Linked DNA regions of Homo sapiens: region 2 is linked to region 1. The links come from fine-mapping of genetic effects on gene expression. Tissue or cell type: whole blood. Region 1 holds a variant in brackets; the other region holds the start of a gene. All regions are shown on one strand. Distances are between the middles of the regions.

Region 1 (10,824 bases):
GAAGCCACTGACTACCTTTAAGCAAGGAAGTGATAGGCCCCAAAGCAGTAGTACAGAAAGATCAATCTGACAGCCCTGAATAGGAAAAAATGAAGGGCAGAGACAGAGACAGAGAGAGAGAGAGAGAGAGAGAGAGAGAGAGAGAAAGACAAAGGGATCATTCAAAGGCTACCGAGGTAGGTCAAGCAGAAGAAGGTAAACATCTTAATAATGGAAAATTTTATACACACACACACACACACACACACACAGGTGTGTGTATATATATATATATAATTTCTAAGTATATATATTAAAGGATATATATATATAATAAAAGGTATATACATACACTTACAAATGAATGAATACAAGAGAAAATTCTGAAAGAAGAATCAAAAGGACTTTGATTAAATACTGATGGAGGGACAAGAGATTTACTTCTCTAGGTACAGGCACAAAGAAACAACATAGAAATTACATTGAATTCAACCTTGGTCTCAATTTTGAAAACAGAAGCATCACTTAACCTTTATTAGTAAACAGCTTACTCCTATAATAATCCTAAGGTTTCTACTATGAATCACTTAGTTCAACCAATTTTAAAGAGCAGAGATGCCCATTCTCTGCAAAAGGCTATATATGGATTACATTTAAAAAGAGAACTTAGTTCAGGATTTCCCCAGTGGGACAACACTGGCACATAGCAAATGCAATGCAAATCATTCTTTACCCCAACATTCACCCTCAGAAGACTGTTCCCCGTGGTAAATGCAGCTAAAATAAAAGAGTCAATTAGAGGTGGAAGATGCAAATTTAAAAATAAAAAGCATAGCCGGGCACGGTGGCTCACGCCTGTAATCCCAGCACCTTGGGAAGCTGAGGCGGGTGGATCACCTGAGGTCAGGTGTTCAAGACCAGCCTGGCCAACACAGTAAAACCCCATCTCTACTAAAAAGGCAAAAATTAGCCAGGCGTGGTGGCGCGCGCCTGTAGTCCCAGTTACTCGGGAGGCTGAGGCAGGAGAGTCACTTGAACTGGGAGATGGAGGTTGCAGTGAGCCAAGATTGTGCCACTGCACTACAGCCTGGCCGACAGGGTAAGACTCCATCTCAAAAATAAATAAATAAATAGCCGAAAACTGAATGGAAAATGAAGTTCTAAAAAGGATTAGTTCATATGAAATAGAGAAGAAATACAAGCCATATACTTAACAGAGTAAGAAATGGATGGTTAGATTAGTAAGACAAAGTAAAAACATAGTGAAAAAAACACTACGGACAAATTAACAAGTTATTCCTGTTATTTCAAACTTTTGATATTGTTCTCCCAACAGATATGTCCCCAAGCAAATATAGTTTCTCTACCCATCCCTCAACTTTTTTCATCTCCGTATTTACAACTTAGCCACATCTGGCAAGTTCAAGTCTTGTCTCCTTTCAATTAGTCCATTCTACAAGTAACACCAGAATGTTCTTCCAACTATATCAATTTGCAACCTCATACTAATCAGCAAACCCTTCTGATGGTTCTAGATACCCTCTGGCTCATGCATAAACTTATCTATTGACTTCAAGACTCTCTACCACCTGCCCCATTCTCCCTAACCAGCTTCATACATTCTTATCCTTGATCTTCACTTGTCCCAGGGAAATCTTACAGTTTTTCATACATGGTCTTTTCACTTTCACCTTCTACCCTTTATTCAAGATGTCCTCTAAGCCTGGAAGAGCCTGCTCACCCACTATATTAATAAGTGTTTCTTAAGTACTTGGACTTGACTGAAAATACTTCTATAACTAACTCCAAATCACCTTCCTAGTTCACTTTATTCTTATGTGCTAAACTTATTTCTCAGTCATGTTAATGTTACATGTATCAAATATTCATTAAAATGAAAACAGGCTGATTCTGATTTCTATAGGGATTAGCTGGTCAGTCAATAAGCTTTTATAGCATATAAGGGCTTGAATAAACAACATAGGAAAGGAACCTATTGTTAATACAAACTACAACCTTCATAGCAGTCACTTTAAACGACTTTCCAAAATACTGACTTACCAAGCACACCAGACATTAGCCAGTAAAGGTGGTTAATGTTCAGATTATCTTTAACCAAACTCCCTATTAACCATGACTTAAAGTTTAGCCATATTTTATGTGCAAATATACTTTCATCACCACTAAATTATGGGAACTCACATAAACTCCATAATACTTTGTATCCAGTGTGTAATGAATCAATATTGAGGATTATTTGCTACTTAATATTCTAGTTAATATAACAGAAAAATCTATCTTAATTCTGAAAAACAATAAAGATGATTACAAATGGTAGATTTTCATCCGTTTCCCACTTGTGCTAATCTCAACTATTCTAGGAGTGGCAAAGTCACTATTATGAAAAGGGCTGGAAGGATGAAAAATAATTATGTCAGTTATTTCATTCTGCATTTGGTGGGAAGATGGTGTGGCATAAGGATCTTTCTAAAACAGTGCATAAGGATCTTTCTAAAACAGTACATAGAGAGACAACACATACATTGAACTCGTTTCTGGCTTTACCAAAATTTTAGAGCAAATAATACAACAGAGGGCAGGTACCATTATTAACAGCATCATCTCATGAGATTTGAAATACGATATTGGGTCTTGGGGAAAAAAAACATGAATACTATACCTGAGGAATCATTTCAGAAGGTCAAAATCAAGTCACAACAGAGTGAGAAGGTATTAAAGATGGGATACTAATTGTTTTTAGATTTCTTGTTTACTGCTCCACAGTAATGCAGGTTGAGTATTCCCAATCCAGAAATCCAAAATGCTCCAAAACTCGAAACTTTTTGAGTACTGTCATGATGATCAAAGGAAATGCTCATTGAAGCATTTCAGATTTCCGATTTCCAGATTAGGGAAGCTGAACTGGTAAGTATATAATGCATATATTTGAAAATCTGAAAAAGATTGAAATCTGAAACACTTTTGGTCCCAAGCATTTTGGATAATGGATAATCAACCTGTATAGATAATTTCCTCATCAATGAGATACAGGAATTTAATAACACTGAAATGCAACAGACTGTGAAAAGAACCCTAAATCCTACAAAATAAAAGCTTTAAAAGAAAAATGATGTCCACACACATACAATTTAATAAAAACTCAGAAATTCTGTAATTAAAAATGATCAGGGTTCTATTATTTTAACCCTCAATCACTTGTGCACAAAAAGAAGGAAAAAGGCTTCCCAAAGAGCCATTCATTCCTCTAATGATTTTGGTTCCTTTCTGTTCATGGGCAAACATGGTAAAATTACCTGATAGTATACTTTACATAAAATAAAAACTTTATGAGGGTTGAGCCTCTTCTGGCCAATCCCAGAATATGAAAAACTGCAAAGTTTTTCATATTAATGGCTTTGCAGTTTTTCATATTAATGGCAAAGATATTCTAATATCTTCACTGACTCTGACTAAAAATAAGGGTAGGTTCCTGTTTACATGAAGGTGGAAGGAGAGAGTATAAATGGGATAAGTTTAAAAAAAAAAAAAACAAGAAGGAAACAACCAGAAAAATTTAGGAAATGGTTGACCCTTGACTGGACATTTGTACTGGACTCTTAAAAAAGTCAATGTCACTAAAGAAAGTAGGAACTGTACTACTCCAATAGAGACTTCAGAGACCTCACCAAATACTATATGAACCCAGATTGGATTTTGGTTTAAAAAAAGGTATAACAGAAATTCTTGGGACAACTGAAGAAATCTGAATATGGACCGAATGTTAAATGATACTATGGATTACTGTTAGTTTTCTTATACATAATAATGGTATTGTGCTTAAGTGTGCCCTTTTTGTTAAGAGATGCAGGCTGAAGTGTTCAGTGGTGAAGTGACATATTACCACTAAATTTTACATGACACAGCAAAAAACATCTGTGTGTATATATGTACAGAAGGCATGTGGGGGTGTGTTGTACTGTTCTTTCCATTTTTCTGCACATTTGACATTTTTCATAATAAAAAGCTGAAACAAAGAAAGCTGGGAAATAATGTCTGAGATGAAGGAAAGGGGGTAGGAGAAATAAGAAAAACAACTTCATCATCCAAAATGTATTCTAAAAGGTGAAATACTAAAATCTAAAAGACAGAAATATAATGTTAGGAGAAAAACAATTATCATGAAAAACAGCAGAACGGTAGGATATGAATTTCTGAAGAAAATGGTTCTCTCTCAAACAGAGGTAATATACTCAGTCATGAGGGCTCTGGGGAAATAAGTATAATTCCAAGAAAGAATGCCGGGGCTGGACTCAGTGTTTTAATCTGCTATCTGAGTCACAGCTAAAACAATTCCATGGCAACAGAACAGATCGGACTCAGACAAGCCAGCAGCCTGCCTGCTGGTCTAGACCTCCCTGCTAGATACAATCACTCGCTCTGGCTAGGCCTAAAGGATCCATGTGAATACTAATGGTAAGGATAACGTATGCTGTCACCTCACCTAATTTTCTTTGGTAAAAAAACCAAGAATATACTTTTGTAGCCCAAAGAGATTCTGCATACAATCCAACAATATTTTCATTTAGAAGGAAATTTCTTAATACAATGAACTTTATTACTAAATCAACTTATGTTACTGAAGATAGTAAGTACTTCCTTCATAAAAACATTAATATTATAGCTTGGCTTGAGGGAGAGGTGGGAAAATCAACCTCCTTTTCTTTCTTAAGCACATCACATTAAGTAAGTATCAAATTTCAATGTACATTATAAGCATCTGGAATGCGGATAAAATGCAGATCTGTAGGCTCCATATCCTGAGATTCTGATTCCATTGCCAGAAGTGAGGGTACCTGTAATAAGCACCCCCAGGGATTCTGATTCAGGTACTCCAGGGTTCCAGGATAGTTCTATGCTTCCATAAATAGCAAAGTTTTACTCTGATTAGATATAATGTGGTATTAGTGAGGAATACTAAACTGGGAGCCAGGAAATCTGGGTGCTAGATTTGTTACTAACTGATGGTATTTGACTCTGGGCACGTCAATGTCTCTGTGCCTCAGTTTTCTCATATGCTCAAATGAGGATAATTCTGCCTGCCCCACTTAGCATACCTCACGTACATGCTAATTTATACAAAAGTGACTTGAGAGTATGAAGAGCTTAACAAACAAGCATTATATCTTTGAGAGGGGAGTCTTTAATCTTATTTGGTGAGCTTAGTATTATGTATTGTACTCACAACAAGAGCCAACTGCAGATTAGTCCCCCCTCTTTCCCCTTAGGCTTAATCTAATCAAAACAGTGCTAAAGTAACATTCTTCTTTATCATTTGACATCCCCCGTGGCCAAAAGAAGACAGAAAGCACAAAGATAATGAGGACGTCACTTAAGTATTGTGAAAATTAAATGTAAAAGAGGTTTATGTCTTGGGACAGTTCTTACCAAGTCTATGAGTTTGGTAACAGGAACTTCTCGGATTGGTCTTTTCATACGGCACAGAGCCTCTAAGGATGTGCCAAAACAACTTGGGAGGTAATTTCCACTGATAGTCAAGAAGTAATCTTTGCCTCGATCCAGGTGAAGGACGAGAATATCTTCAATCTTATCTTCTCCCGAGTTCAGGATGGTTACAGAGTCTTTGCTGACATACACATCAAGAGAAATGTCCACTGTCTCATCTGAAATGTAAGAGATGATACATGGTAATAGGAAAACCTCCAGTGGGAAAGCAAAAAAGAGTATAAGAACCAACAGAAAA[G/A]TGTCCTCTAAAAAAATCATTAAGCAATGAGGGGGAAGAGACAGGACACACACCAGAGGTATCACCAATATGACAGTAAAGGTAAGAGACATGTGGTTAGAAAACAGAAAGTTAAACCAAGGGGATGGGAGTCATGACATCACCAGCAGAGACAATGGTAAAGGGAAAACTCACTTGGCTCCAAGTAGCCCTCAAAAGGTTCAGCCCGAAGCCATGGCTTGCAGTACTGGCTGTCATTAAGTTTAGGGATGAAAGAAAAATGGCAGGGAACCTGTCCATTGTTGCTGATCTGGAACTTCTCCTTTTGTAGTTGCCGAAACTTCACATTTTCAAACACAAACTGGGGAATAACAGACAGACACAAACATGCATCACTAGTAGGGGAAGTAAGTCAGTTGGATTATTCCATAGAGGATATGAGGAGTAAGGTAATTGTTAAGCAGGTGTGCAAATGCCATAGACATTCACCAACTGAACCAACTTCACAACATCCACTTGCATGTATTATTATACTCACACCAGCAGAGAAGGAGTTAGGTGGCTCTTGCTACTTCTCCAGGCTACTCTGATCATTCCTAGGATCCTAAGAGGGTAACCCAACCTTGGTTCAGAGTATTCATCCTGTGACCAAGTCCTGGTTTCTGAGATATAAATTAACTAGCAACTCTGAAATATTAAATAAGAGCATCTAACAGCGGAGGGCTTACTATGTGCCGGGTGCTGTTCTGAGAGCTTTGCATGTATTAACTCATGTAATCCTTACAACTACCCCTTAATCCAGGAAAGGAAACTGCGGCTCTGAGCGGGTAAGATACTTGCCTGAGGTCATACATCTACTAAACAGCCGTGCTACAACTGGAATGGAGGCAGTCTGACTCCAGCGACATGGGCTTAACCACGTTGCTATGTAGCCTTTTCTAAGTAGCAGTTTCTTCTGTGCTAACCACAGTGAGCAGTAGACAGGGAGATCATGTATTTTTGCTCACCTCCCTCCTGCTGAGTTCTAAGGAAGGAAGGAAGTCATTTTCCATTCTGTCCATGATGCGTACACTATCTTCAAAGACTTTCCGGTACCTTCGTTCATCCACAACCTTCACCTGAAAGAAAATGTATCCTCTTTTCAGTCTTATATCCTTCTAGCTCATCTCCCTTGGAGATTATCTAACAATTTAAAACTGGTCATTACAGTAACTATTTAAAATAAACTGTGGTGCAAACAACATCCTCAAACACTCTCTATATCTTGCTTCATCCACAGCTTGCACCTGAAAGAAAACAGATCCTTGCTTTAGTTTTATGTGTTCTCAACTTTTATACCTCCAAGAGTCTCTAACAATTTTTAAGGTCACTAAAGCAAACATAAATTGAACAAAGCATTATAGAAGCACACGCTTTAAGGTAAAGGTAAGATTAATTGGCTAACGTCCTGTAAAAGTTAAACCCCTACGTTAAGAAGCTTGGTAATAATAAATATTTGGGAAGAATATTTTCTTGCTTCATTGTTAAGTTATTTGGTAGTGGAAAAAATGTGATAATTGTGGTAAAAATGATTGCTTGCACTGTACAAAATGACAGTGTCAAAACACAGCAATTACTGTTTCTAACAATCATAACTTGGTGAGGTGGCAGCAAATATTATTAAAAAGCTTTTAACTCTATTAGATTCTATGTACAATACCAAGAAGTATAATATCACTGCTCAGATTACATAATAGCAGAGATATATTAATAAATGGAACCTACAGCCATTTTAGAAAATGGCTGAAACAAAATGTCCTAGACTAGAGTAAAACCATGACAACGTATAAACACATCTCCACTGATAAAAAAATTTTCCACCTGACACAGCACTTTCAGCTTCCTGATATAGCTGTGTTTTTTTAAATATTAAAACTTCATACAAACCAATGCCAAAATTAACATAACTAACAGATTTTAACTTGAGATATCGGTTTCTTTTTTAGACTAGGAAATTTCACAAAAATTCATGTCAAAAAAAATTGATACATGCAGCAAAGGTTCTAAAAAGATGTGGAAACAGATGCTGGTGAGGCTGTGGAGAAGTAGGAACGCTTTTACACTGTTGGTAGGAGTGTAAATTAGTTCAACCATTGTGCAAGACAGTGTGGCGATTCCTCAAGGATCTAGAACCAGAAATACCATTTGACCCAGCAATCCCATTACTGGGTATATACCCAAAAGAATATAAATCATTCTACTATAAAGACACATGCACACATATGTTTACTGCAGCACTACTTACAATAGCAAAGACATGGAACCAACCCAAATGCCCATTAATAATAAGACTTGATAAAGAAAATGTGGTAAATATACACCATGGAATACTATACAGCCATAAAAAGGAATGAGATCAGGCTGGGCACAGTGGCTCACACCTGTAATCCTAGCACTGCGGGAGGCCGAGGCAGGAGGATCACTAGAGGTCAGGAGTTCGAAACCACCCCAGCCAACACGGTGAAACTCTGTCTCTACTAAAAGTACAAAAAAAAAATTAGCCAGGCATGGTGGTGGGTGCCTGTAATCCCAGTCACTTGGGAGGCTGAGGCAGGAGAATCCCTTGAGCCCGGGAGGCGGAGGTTGAAGTGAGCCAAGATTGCACCACTGCACTCCAGCCTGGGCAACAGAGCAAGACTCCACCTCAAAAAATAAAAAAAGTCATGTCCTTTGCAGGGACATGGATGAAGCTGGAAGCCATCATCCTTAGCAAACTAACACAGGAACAGAAAACCAAGCACCGCATATTCTCACTTATAGGTGGGAGTTGAAGAATGAGAACACATGGACACAGGGAGGGGAACAACACACACCAGGCCACTCGGGGTAGTGGGGCGAGGGGAAGGAGAGCATTAAGGTTAAATAGCTAATGCACGTGGGGCTTAAAACCTAGATGATGGGTTGATAGGTGCAGCAAACCAACATGGCACACATACCTATGTAACAAGCCTATACGTTCTGCACTTGTATCCCACAACTTGAAGTGAAATAAAAATTTTTTAAAATGTTGAAAATAAGAACATCAAAGCTGAGTCAAGTATCTCAGACTGGGGAAGTTTTTCACATATTTGAACTGTAACTCTTAGAGAACCGAGGATCAAACAATCACTTTACCATCACCAGGGTCCATAGTATAGCATTAGTTTAAGATGAATTTTATACTTTTACAAAACTTTGCAACTTTTAATTTCCAAAAGTATTTTGCACATGTCTTTTTATTTTCACAACCTGGAAGGCTACCAAAGCAAGGAATATTTTTGTTCCGATAGTTGAGAACATTAAGATACAAAACAATCAACAAACTTGCTCACTGCTACAGTGAATACCAAAGGTGACATCTGGACTAGTTTAAGACTCTTTCCAATATACTAGATATGTGACAGAATCAACTTGAGTATGTCTTAAAAGCACAGCTGCCTGGGTCTACTAATCACAGCCTCTAGGGGTGAGGACACATGCATCCACACTTTTTTTAAAGCTCTCTAAGCAATTCTTACATCCACTGAAGTCTGAGAACCAATGCAACAGATCACAGTACCAAGTGCAGGGTTGGAACCCTATCCTAGCTCTATCTCAGCCAGCCCACAGAAAGTCTTCTGAAATTAATTGGCCACGGTGCACTTGGCTCCTTTGTTAACAGTCATTGGTGCCAATGGTGGTGAAAATATAGTGTGGTTTTTAAAGCCTCTAATCATAGCATGCCCAAGAATCCAAAACATGGGGTGATTACTCAATAAAATCAAACTTTTTCTCAGCGGGTTATCATGATCACAGCACTTAATGGCAAATCAAAGATAATGAGGAGGGGGGGAACCCCAAAGAATTTCACAACCTGACACATCCATTTTAGTAAAGGAAATTACTGACAAAATTAGGAATTTGAAAAAAAGTACAATGAGCTAGGTCTTTATGTAATAAGATGGGAGGTTCTCCAAGACACACTGCTGAGTTAAAAAAAAAAATCAAGTTGCAGACCAACACATACATATAAGACCGTTTATGATATAGAGACACACACAAATCAGTATTTTGTCTATGAGTGAACAAAAAAGCATATACAAAGGTCTAGAACTGCACTGTCCAGTACAATAGTGACTAGCCACATAGGGAATTTGAATTTAAATTACTTTAAATTAAATTAAATTAGAAGTTCAGTTCTCAGTTGCACTAGCCACACTTCAAGTACTCAATAGCCCCCTGCTGCTAGAAGCCACTGGACTGGACAGCACAGATACAGGACATTTCCATCATCACAGAAAGCTCTATTGGACAGCACTGGTCTAGAAAGATATAAACTCCTAAGGGTAGTGGCCTGGCTGGGGAATGGGGGTTTAGGCAAAGTTGGGAGTAGGAGACAGAACAGGGATTGAAGAACTTCTGCCTTATCTGTCAATTCTGCTTAAATTTCCTTTTAATTTTTTTAAAAGCACTTGTCATTGCTGTATAATTTAAAAATCATTAAAAACTCAAAAGGCATATCTTTATTAAAGATATACATAAATACACAGGAAGCCTGAAAAAAAATGTAAATATCCCACTAGAAGCTCTGCATTAATGTGTATGGAGTATTAAAAACATCCCAAGGTTGGCTGCGAGCGGTGGCTCATGCCTGTAATCTCAGCACTTTGGGAGGCTGAGGCGGGTGGACCACAAGGTCAGGAGATCGAGATCATCCTGGCTAACATGGTGAAACCCCGTCTCTACTAAAAATACAAAAAATTAGCTGGGCGGGAGGCTGAGGCAAGAGAATGGCGTGAACCCAGGAGGCGGAGCTTGCAGTGAGCCAAGATCGTGCCACTGCACTCCAACCTGGGTGACAGAGCGAGACTCTGTCTCAAAAAAAAAAAAAAAAAAACCAAAAAACAAAAAACAAAAACAAACAAAAAAATCTGAAGGTTTTGAAAAGAAATGTAAACAAAAAAGCCAGGCATACCTGATCTAACCAAAGAGGTTAGTGTTTGAGGAAAGATACCCTCTCAAAATGGATTAAGAGAATTCAAATGAAGAAAAAGGGGCAGCCTGCAAGTACAAACTAGAAATTAGATGGGCTAAAAGAAGTTATCTAA
Region 2 (10,824 bases), 37 kb after region 1:
TCTTAATTTCAAATAGCATGTGGAGAAAGTGCTGAATGTGTGTGAATCCAAGTGACCTTGGTACCTTATGAGCACTGTGTCCGTTAAGCCCAAGAATGTTATTTAAATCCACATATAGGTCAGTCAGCATAAAAAACTACCTACACAGGTAACAATCTACATACATCTCTAACCCAAGCCAAGGAAACAGGTGAGACTATAGACACACATATACAAATATATTTCGATATAACCCTTCAGCATTCTTAGAGAAAGTATCATCTCCTCAATGTTATCTTTTTATGCAAAGAGTAATACATTTCATTTTACATGCACTGACAAATTTAAATATGTATGGTATTACATAATGCAGTAATGACCGAGAAAAAACATTATAAAACTAGCTAAGGAATTAAAGCTAGTACCTTGAACACATCTGAAGTGGCTATTTATAGGAATGATATCTTGAACATGCTGTTCCTTCTCATGCAACTGGATTATTAACCTAGGAAACAGAAGAACGCATCAAAGAACAGCCACTGAAAAACTCATTTAGCAAAAAAATACTTCACTGTCCTGTTATACAAATCTAGTCTGTATTTACTAGACTTGCTGCATCTAGTTCCCTGGATCTGAGCATCATGACAGCTAGATATTGCTCTAGGCCTAAAAGGATGCTAGTGGTGATGAACATCTGATTACCCACACTGTTCTCTAGGCCATATATCCTAAAAACAGTGTACAAGCTTAAGAGCATGAATTACAGAGTATATAGCTTCAGAGTATGCATACCAGAGTGAAGAACTGACAGCTAGATGTGAAGTCCATGAGTGCAGGGACCACAGCTATCTTTACACCACGGAATTTCTAGTACCTAGCACAAAGCCTGGCACACAGGAGTTGCTCGTGTGTGTGGAATCAATGAATTAGAAAATTCATAAATTAACCTTCCAATTATATTCCCATGGCTTTTTACCAAAGAATGGATCTGTCTCTTCAAACAAGCATTCAGGTTCATGGAGGAGTAAGAGGGGGTGCTCAGCCAGCTGGATTGGTCAAAATATCAGTGACCAACAAGGTGGCAGATATCACAACTGGATTGCCTTCAAATCCCTTGTTTCTTCTCTGGTTTCCAAGTTTACGCTGGTATTTCTACATAAACATGAGTAAACCTGACTCCCCAGATGAAATCCATACTTCTAAATCCATACGTACTCCTGAAATATTAATTTTTCATTTATTATTTATCCTTAGTGGTCCAGAATCAAGGTACGACCTACTGGTAAACAGCCATTCTGAACGTCAACTAGCATTCTCAAAGTCAAGCACTCTTCAAGTATTGTTTTTAGTTTTTTGTCAGGAACACTCTGTTTCTTTCCGAGTTTCATCTCAAATATCACCTCCTCCATGAAACTGTCCTCAGTACCCCCAAGCAGAACCAGCAGCCTTATCGCCTTTGTTTGCCCCTCTAATAGAACACTTACACACTCCATTATGGTTATATTTATTTCCCCTCACTGATTTCAGCTCCTTGAAAGCAAAGACCAGATCATATTCAGTTTTGTCTGCAGCCTAATAGATGCTCAACAAATACTGGCTGAATAAATTAACTAGCTTAATTAAGCTATAAGCAGCGGTGAATTTTTCAATGAAACTGTCCAACTTCTGACATTAAAATGTCATTGTTTTGAAGGGTTTGATTTCTATTTTGTTGTCTTTTGGGGGTGCTTGTTGCTTTTGCTTTTTGCATTTTCAAATGTGTTAACTTTGAAGAGGATAACCTGGGATAGGATAAGTAATTACTTAGATAGAACTAAGGGAAATAAAAGTATTAATGCTGTTTTTCTGCTGTGATCCTTCTTGCCTAATTTGCAGGGGTTTGTACTCTAAGGTGATTACAGGAATATGGGGCAGGCCCCTTTCCATCTGGAAAGTTCATGAGTTGAGTGGAGAGTCCTATAAACCCAGATGGAAACCAGAAACCAGATAAAAGGCTGAGAAATCAAGGGTTAAGGAGGAAGAGCTTACTTTGAGGAAGATAAACACAAACCACTAAAATCTCAAAATACATAAACAAGAAATGGTGTTGAACATTAGCATTAAAGCTTCATCTGGACAGTACTGTTAAAAACTATTACAAAACAAATAAACTGAGAATTTAAGTGAATTTCACCAACATTTATTGAGTATTTACTACGTGTTACCCACTAAATTACAATAAAAGAGTAGGGCTAAGAATAAGCATAAAAATTCTGAGTGTAATTATTCATTTCAGAATATAAAGATTAGAAATAATTGGTATACAGCAAAACAATGGAATTCAGAATTTGGTAGTTGTCAAACAGAAAAGAGTGACAAATCCTGAATGCCAACTCTGCCTTATCCCTAGGAAACACTTTGATTTGTTCAAGGAAGGTTAAAGGTCAAACAGGTTTTGTCATAATCTATTATCCTTGAAAAATATGAATCTTAAGTGTTTGATTCCCTGTTTCCAAAAAAACCCTGATTTTTAATTGTAATTTTGGTCAAGCAAATTTCCTATGGTTGACAGTAGGAACCACAGACCTAAAGATTTAAGTCAGGCTTCAAGTTCTAGGATAAAAAAGCCAAAAGTAAAAAGTTCTGGACACTCGAGTCAGAAAAGACACCAGAGAGACAAGAATATGAGGATTACAGATGGTATTATGGTATTAGGTGTCTCCAGCAAATGCTTTCAAGAGAAACTTCTCAGTGTAATTCTGAGACATGTTACATAGGATCAGATCTCAGGTATTCTACTCCCTAATTGCAAACAAGTGACTTAACCTGTCTGTGCTTCAATTTCTGTATCTATAAAAGGGGGATGATGATATTACTATCTTATAGTAACCCTCACATGTGGATTAAATGAACTAACTAATGAAAAGGGCTTAGAACAGTACCTGGCACATAAGCAGCCATTGAATGTTAGTTATATAGCAACAACTATATTAGTTGTTAGTTATATGTTAGTTTATATATAAACTATAGTTTATATGTATTTAAAACTATAGTTTATATATATTTAAAACTATTTACATAGTTTATATATAAACTGCTAATATAGCAACAACTATATTAGTTGTTAGTTATATAGTTGTTATATAGTGTTACCTATATATTAATGTTAGTTATATAGCAGCCCCATACCCCCACATATACCCCCAACTATACCCCCATAACTTACACAGAATTGGAACACACGACTTCCTTATTAGCTCAACAGAGTTCCAAATCTACTAATCCGAGGGACTAGATTCTGGGCTGTGGTCATCTCAACAATGTAGCTACTCTATTCAATCTTCATGATTTTGTTTTTACATTAGAGGAAACCAAGGCACACAAGTTTTACTGGTTTGCCCAAGGGTCACCTCTCTGTAACCCACTCTAGCCTTTGGAAATGTTAGTGGTGTTCCACTTTTCTGCTGAATTTTGTTTTATTAAATTCTGAATTTAGTTTAGTTTCATTAAACTAGTCTTCCAGGGTTTGATGAAATCCGGGTTTGATGAACTTCCCAGTAGAGCTGACTAAGCAGGACCTATGAAAGAGCTACTTCACAGAATTAGCTGACATCCAGTTAGAGTGGCACCAATAGTCTCAGAGAAGAGCAGGTTGGGCCAGTGGGAATTTCTTCCGTGTAAATCTGACAGCATAGATACAGAGGATCTAAAAGTGGGGACTGAGAAAATTGGTTTTAGGCAGAAGCCAATGTTGGGAGATGGCAAGATTTAAGTGAACAATTTTTAAACTGGGAAGGAATATGATGTCAAGAAGCCAATGAATATCCAAGTGAGGTGTCTTGGGCACACAGGGATAGGGGCCTATGATACGTAATGGTCACCATGGATATTTTTGAGATAAGATATTAGTGACAATAGAGTGAGGTTAGCAGCTATGGTGATAGCTTATCAAAATAATCTTTTGATCAATCAGTCAACAGTATTTACGGAGCTCCTATGGCAGAGAGGAAGGTGACACACTGATAAAATACTGTCATTTCTATCTCTACACATTTCATTACCTTTTCTTTCTAACAGTAAAGTCAGTAAGTGAGGCAGTTTCTGGCCTACACTAAACCATTACTGAATTAATGAATATGCCTTCAACCCAGTGGGATAAGGGGACGGGGAGACTGGAGAAACCAGCTGAATAGGGTTAAGACAAGTCTGTAACGTTAACAATGAAGCATTTCCATAGCACTTTTACTTTTTGGAAGCCACTCTCGCATTTATTTTTCCCCCAGTTATAATTCCAAAGGCTGTAAGGTAAGGCAGTTAATGGTTTTATTAAACTGAAGAGTTAACTTTGGCCCAGAAAGCTTTATTGACTTGCCCAACGTTACACAACACATGTCAGTTGCAGGGGCAGGAACTAAGAACCCAGGCTTCCTGCTTCCCCGCCCATTCAGTCCTTCCACTGAGCCACACTGCCAAGCACAATCCAGAGGCTTGGAAGTTGGGGACAAAGCCCCGAGGTTAGAGAGCACTGGCACTTCACACCTGGACCTGAACCTGTTGCCCGCGTGGCTTCAGTAGGAGGACAGTGGGTGACCCGTCGCGGTTTGGGGTTGGGAGGTAATGGCAGGCTCCCCTCCTCTGTGGGAATCAGGTGGTTACTTACTCATATTGCCCGTTCCTCTGGGCTAGGGTCAGGGCGCAGGGCTCCCGGAGAGGACCCTTCATCTCCATACCCTCGACAGTATGCGGGCGCTAGTCAAGGGTCTCCTTCGGAAGCGCGGTGGGGAGGAGTGGTGCACTGCGGGGCGAAGGGGGTCTTCCACCCCCCCCCCACCGCCGCCCTCCCCCGCCCCGCCCCGCCCTGCTTCGTCTCCCGCGCCGGCCCCCTCCCCCTCTCTGCTCGGCCTCTGGGCCACCCGGTTGCCCCGCCCCACCGTGTTCCGCAGGGCCCCCGACCCCCACCCCCGGCCCTGCGCGGCCTCCCCTCTCCCTTCTCTCCGGCGGATACGGCAAGCGGCTGGGCTCCGACCGGGAGCGGCGGCTCCATCCAGGCGGCCTCCGGGCTCAGCAGGACAGCGGACTGCGGGCCGATCCGACGACACTGGCTCCCGCGTCCCCACACCCACCCACCTCGGCTGCGTGTCGTTTGAGGAACAGCTCCGCGCCGGGCGCCGGGCGCCGGGAGCCGGGAGCGGGGAGCTGGGAGCTGAGAATCTGACCCAAGAGAGAGCGGCGCCTCGCGCCCCCGCCAGTTTTCCAGGCCGCCGCAGATTCCGTCCCCTGCGGTCAAACTGCGGAACTGCAGCGAGAGACCTGACGGACTGGGGGCGTCTCTACCAGGTCCAGCAAGGAATGGGTTTTAAATGCCACCTGTGACATCAAAATTGTTCTGAGGACTTTGAAGGCCACAGAAACAAAACACAGTCATACCTATGGGAGATCTCAAACCTGTTGTGTCAATACGACCCACATCATTCAGTAAAAAAATACATATATATATATATATATATTTCTTAAGGTTATAATGTCCCGTGTTGGTTATCCTACCATTTCCTTTCCTCTTCTTTCTTCCACGCCCTAAATCGGAGAATTCCCCAAAGCCCAGACCTTTGCTCCTCCTCTGCGTCCCCTCCAGTTCACCTCTAACTAGACAATGTCCAAATATATATCCCTGGCCCAGACCTCTTACCTAATAGAGTCCATTGTTAACACATCACTGCGTCACAAAACTAACTCATTATCATTTCACTGGAAAGCCATATATCGTCTTCCCCCTCCTCATCTCTATATCCAATCAGTCAACACACCCTGTTAATATTTTACGTGGAATTACTTTTAGATTCCTTATTTTCTCTCCATTCACACTGCCATAACTTTATTGTAAGCCCTTGTGATAGCCTATCTGGGTTATTGCACTTTTCTTTAAATAAATCCTGTTGGGTTTACTCTTTCCTTTGACATGTTTACTCTGTTGACAGCCATAAAAATATTTTTCCCAAAGTAATTTTTCGATCGTGTTATTCATTTGCTCCAGAATCTATAATACACTAGATATCAAGAGTGACTGTAAATCTGTAGTAATTAAAAGTATGCTGTGGAGATAGACAATCAATGAAACACAATATAAACCCCTCAAACAGACCACACATATACGGAAGGTTGATATGCAGCGTGTGGGACATTTCAAATCAGTGGGGAAAGAATGGATTATCCACTAAGTGGTACTAGGACTACTGCTTATCCATATGGAAAATTATAAAAATTAGACCCCTACCTCAAACCATGGAAGAAAAATCAGTTCCAGGTGGATTAAAGATCTAAATGTGAAAAGCAAAACTTTATAACTTTCAGAAAAAAAAATTGAGTATGAGCTTGGAATATGGAATGAGAATAAGACATTTAGCTACATGAAATTTCAAAATGTATGTACTTTAAGACAATATAAACAAGTTAAAAGACAAACTGGCCTGCACAGTGGCTCATGCCTGTAATCCCAGCACTTTGGGAGGCCGAGGTGGTAGGATCACTTGAGCCCAGGAGTTCAAGACCAGCCTGGGAAACGTGGCAAAACCCTGTCTCTACAAAAACTATAAAAATTAGCTGGATGTGGTGGCAAGTGCTTGCAGTCCCAGCTACTCAGGAGGCTGAGGTGGGAGCATCCCCTTGAGCCAGCGAGGTCACATCTACAGTGAGCTGTGATGGCGCCACTGCACTCCAGCCTGGGTGACAGAGCAAGACCTTGTCTCAAAAAAAAAAAAAAAAAAAAAAGACAAGCTGTCATCACCTTTCGGACATCTCCCACCATTTCCCACCACTCTCCCTAACTAGCTTTGCTTAGTCACACTGACTCCTTGTTGTTGCTAGGACTTGCCAGGCACACTCTTACCTCAGGGCCTTTACACTTGCTGTTCACTCTGCATGCACTCTCACCTCCTTCAGGTCTTTGCTCAAATGTCACTTTCTCACTGAAGCCTTCCTAGACCACTTTATTGAAAATTGTAATTCAACAATCCCCTTCTCCATCACCACACATACATGTTCCCTATCCCTCTTCCCTGCTTATGTATCACTATCTACCACTTCTGTTTTATTTATCAATATTATTGGTCATTTACCTTCACCCGCTAGAATGTTGAGTTCCATGAGTGCAAGGATTTTGTCTGTTTTGATCATAGCTGCATTCTCAGTGCCTAGAACCATTCTTGGAGCCAAGTAGGTGCTAGAAAAATATTGATTAAATGAATGAATGACTTGGTATCCAGGATATATAAGAACTCCTATAAATAAGAAAGAAACCTAATAGAAAAATTGACAAAATATCTGAGTAAGTAATTCATAGTCAAGGAAACCCAGATGGCCAATAAAGACATGAAAAGATGCCTAACTTTATTACTATTCAGGGAAATTGAAAAGTAAAACCACGAGATACCATTTCACAACCATCGGTTTTGTGAAAATTTAAAAAGTCAGACAACCCCAAGTGTTGTTGAAGTTCTAGCAGTGGAACTCTGATTTACGGCTAGAAGGAGTTTAAGTTGGTAGAACTGCTATGAAGAACAATTTGACGATGTCTAATAAAGGCAATACCCCTCAATCTAGAAATTCTATTTCTAGATATAGACACTGGCAAAACTCTACCTTTTATATGCACAAAGAGACATATAAAAGAATGTTCATTGCAGTATTATTTGTAATCTCAAAAATGGAAGCCAAGTAAATGTCAGCAGGTGAATGAATAAATAATGGTGTTCTCGATGAATGAATTTGAGCTATGGGTAGTAACAGCTAAATTTCAAAAATATAATGTTGAGTGAAAAGCAAATTGCAAAACATGTACAGTATACTGTGTATATAAAGTCTGAAAATATCATCTATTGCTTATGGCTACATAGATGAGTAGTACTGTAATAGTATATAAAACATGAAAGGGCATGATCACCAAATTTAAGAGAGGGAGAGGATTGACACTCGGGGGAGGCATACAGAGAATATCAAATATATCTAATATTTATTTCTCAAAACAGAATCTGAAAAGTGATGTTGCAAGATTTGATAGAACTGGGTGGTGGGTACATATATTGGTTCTGTTATTCCATGTACTTTCCTGCACTGAAAATCATTTGCAGTCAATGAAAACGAAAGATAAAGAAGGAATATGCAGGGGAGGTTAGCAGTATCAAATGCTGAAAATAGGACAAGAAAATGAGGGCCAAAGAGACTTTCTTTGGACGTGTCAAGGAGTTCACTGGAGACCAATAATTGTTTGGTTTCAATAAGTGGTGAGGATAGAAACAAGATTATGGGGAATTGAGGAGGAACTGTATTGTGAGAAAACGGAGACAAGAGACCACAGATTGAAGAGGTTTGGAAATAAAAAGGAACGAAGTACAATTTTAATTAAATTAGTTAGAAGGGTCAAACAGAGGTTGTTGACAAAGCCTGAAGCCACTTTAAAGCAAAGAGGAAGGAACCAACAAAGAGGGGGCCTTTTTTTTTTTTTTTTTTTTGAGACGGAGTCTCGCTCTGTCGCCCAGGTCGGACTGCGGACTGCAGTAGCGCAATCTCGGCTCACTGCAAGCTCCACTTCCTGGGTTCACGCCATTCTCCTGCCTCAGCCTCCCGAGTAGCTGGGACTACAGGCGCCCGCCACCGCGCCCGGCTAATTTTTTGTATTTTTAGTAGAGACGGGGTTTCACCTTGTTAGCCAGGATGGTCTCGATCTCCTGACCTCATGATCCACCCGCCTCGGCCTCCCAAAGTGCTGGGATTACAGGCGTGAGCCACCGCGCCCGGCCAGAGGGGGCCTTTTAAGATGCTAGAAGAGAGAGGCAGTAAGGTTGCAAGCAAAATCCCTCAGTAATTGAGAGGGACAAAGATCCAAGATGTAGATGGCGGAATCGGCCTTAGGGAAAAGGCGAGATACTTCTTCCTCCAACTTTACAGTATCCTCAGCACCTAAACAGTGCATTGCACATAGTGGGCACTCAATAAATATTTGTTAAGTGAAGAATAAGAGGTTGTGTGGAAATTAAAATATATTGAGGTAAGGACACTAAAAACTGAGGTCTCTCACAGGGGAAATGATGGTTGCATATAAGTGGCTTCCAATGCAAAGAGTTAAAAGACAATTGAATAAAATTCAAATAAATGAAACTCTGGCTTCAAGAAAACATGAATCTCACCACCTTTACCACCACCATCTGCACATGCGTGCGTGTACACACATACACAAACACACACAAATTCAGTGGGTGCTCAGTGCCTGTCTTTTATCTATTAGGCAACTATCACTAAGTGTCTAGAACTTACAGGCTTTTCAGAAACAAAATTAAAAAAAACAGGATCTTTAAAAAAGACTAGAGCCGAGCACAGTGGTTCACAACTACAATCCCAGCACTTTGGGAGGCCAAAGCAGAAGGACCATTTGAAGTTTGAGATCAGCCTGGGCAATCTAACGAGACCCCCATCTCTACAAAAATAAAATAAAATAAAATTAGCTGGGCATGGTGGTATGTGCCTACAGTCCCAGTTACTCGGGAGGCTGAGGCAGGAGGATCACTTGAGCCCAGGAGTTCAAGGCTGCAGTGAGCTATGATTGTGCCACAGCACTCCAGCCTGGGCGACAGAAGGAGACTCTGTCTCTAAAAAAATTTGTTTTTAAGTAAAGGCTACAAAATACTAAAATGACAAATTCAAAAATAATAATTAAATGGCATACAAAATAGAACAGTATATCAAGTTCATTAACAGTTAAATTTATTATGCATTTAAAAACCCATTATATTTGAAGACGATTTTTAGGTTGGATCTTCTCACTTCCCAAGAATTCCCACGTACATGTAATTCTTATGGAGAAATCACAGCCATGTAAATTAAATTAGTTATGCACAGACAAATAATTTCAAAAGCAAAATTACCAAAGCATTTTCAAAAATTTATAGCAAAAATATAAATGTTTAATGCAGGATGTGGATGCATTTTAATATGTTTATTATGATGTTGGCTGAAGTCTCCACAAGTGACAGTGTTTAGGGCCTGCGAAGGCAAAAACAGGCCTGCCTAACATAGATGAGGCTGGGAAGGAAGATTTTGTATAGGTGAGTCAGCAGCCAGAGGCTGGAAGGCAGGCCAAGTGGAGGCATAAATGATTCATTTATTTTTAAATCCCCACTAGTTGAAAAGCCTCCCTTTTCATATACACAAATCCAGCATGGGTATGGCTTTCCATACAGAGCAACATAAAGAGTTCATTTTTATTTACATATTTCTGTTTTGCATTTCTATATTTCCACTTACACATTTCTATGTTATTTATGTCTATTTTCATTCCTTATAGAGTTTGGGGTGAGAAAAGCTCATTACTTGGGGCCACAGCCTATCACCTATACTCTTGGTGAAATGGCGACAGGCACAGCAAGCAGGAAAAACTGGCCTCCTTCGGCACACAATGCCCTCCAGGCCCTTCTTTCCCTTTGCTACTTTATTTCTATGCGGGCTAGTTTCTTAATTTCCTTCATTCTCTACCCCTATCACATTCACCAAGGCTAGGCTCTCCTTTCTGCTTAGTGAATCCCATAGGCAGGTCAGCATTGCCCAGGCCTGCTTGCCTCTTCCTCTCAGAAATTGGAGATGCTGAACTGAAAGAATATGGCATCAGCCTGGCATTAAAGCTCCAAGGATCTGTCCTGAATGCATCATTCCAGAGTTATCTCCCAAGGAAACTCTTTATAAACTTTATGCTCTGCCCATCATTTCCCTTCAGATTTGAACATGTGCAGCAGTTAGTGGCAATCAAATGGATGTGTCCATGACTCAAATACTTAGTCGATCATTTAGCTGAACACTGCTAGCTTGCCATCTTGGTCTTGA

What was found. PIP is the estimated chance that this variant, and not a neighbour inherited with it, causes the effect.
Region 2: it holds the start of OCRL, and the variant in region 1 is the best candidate, but not a certain one, in a credible set for the expression of OCRL in whole blood (TOPMed, PIP 0.90).

What each region holds. Positions count from the first base shown.
Region 1 is chrX:129,571,153-129,581,976 of GRCh38, reverse strand. It overlaps OCRL (OCRL inositol polyphosphate-5-phosphatase), which reads right to left. Exons shown (of 24, transcript NM_000276.4): 16 at 6,727-6,837; 17 at 5,915-6,080; 18 at 5,425-5,660. Among named protein-coding and RNA genes, the nearest start is that of OCRL, 36 kb to the right of the region's middle. The variant G/A (reference allele first, on the strand shown) is at 5,741.
Region 2 is chrX:129,534,618-129,545,441 of GRCh38, reverse strand. It overlaps OCRL (OCRL inositol polyphosphate-5-phosphatase), which reads right to left and starts at 5,183. Exons shown (of 24, transcript NM_000276.4): 1 at 4,964-5,183; 2 at 4,619-4,698; 3 at 405-484. The coding sequence starts at 5,002. RefSeq lists silencers at 4,970-5,169, 5,280-5,339 and an enhancer at 5,056-5,350.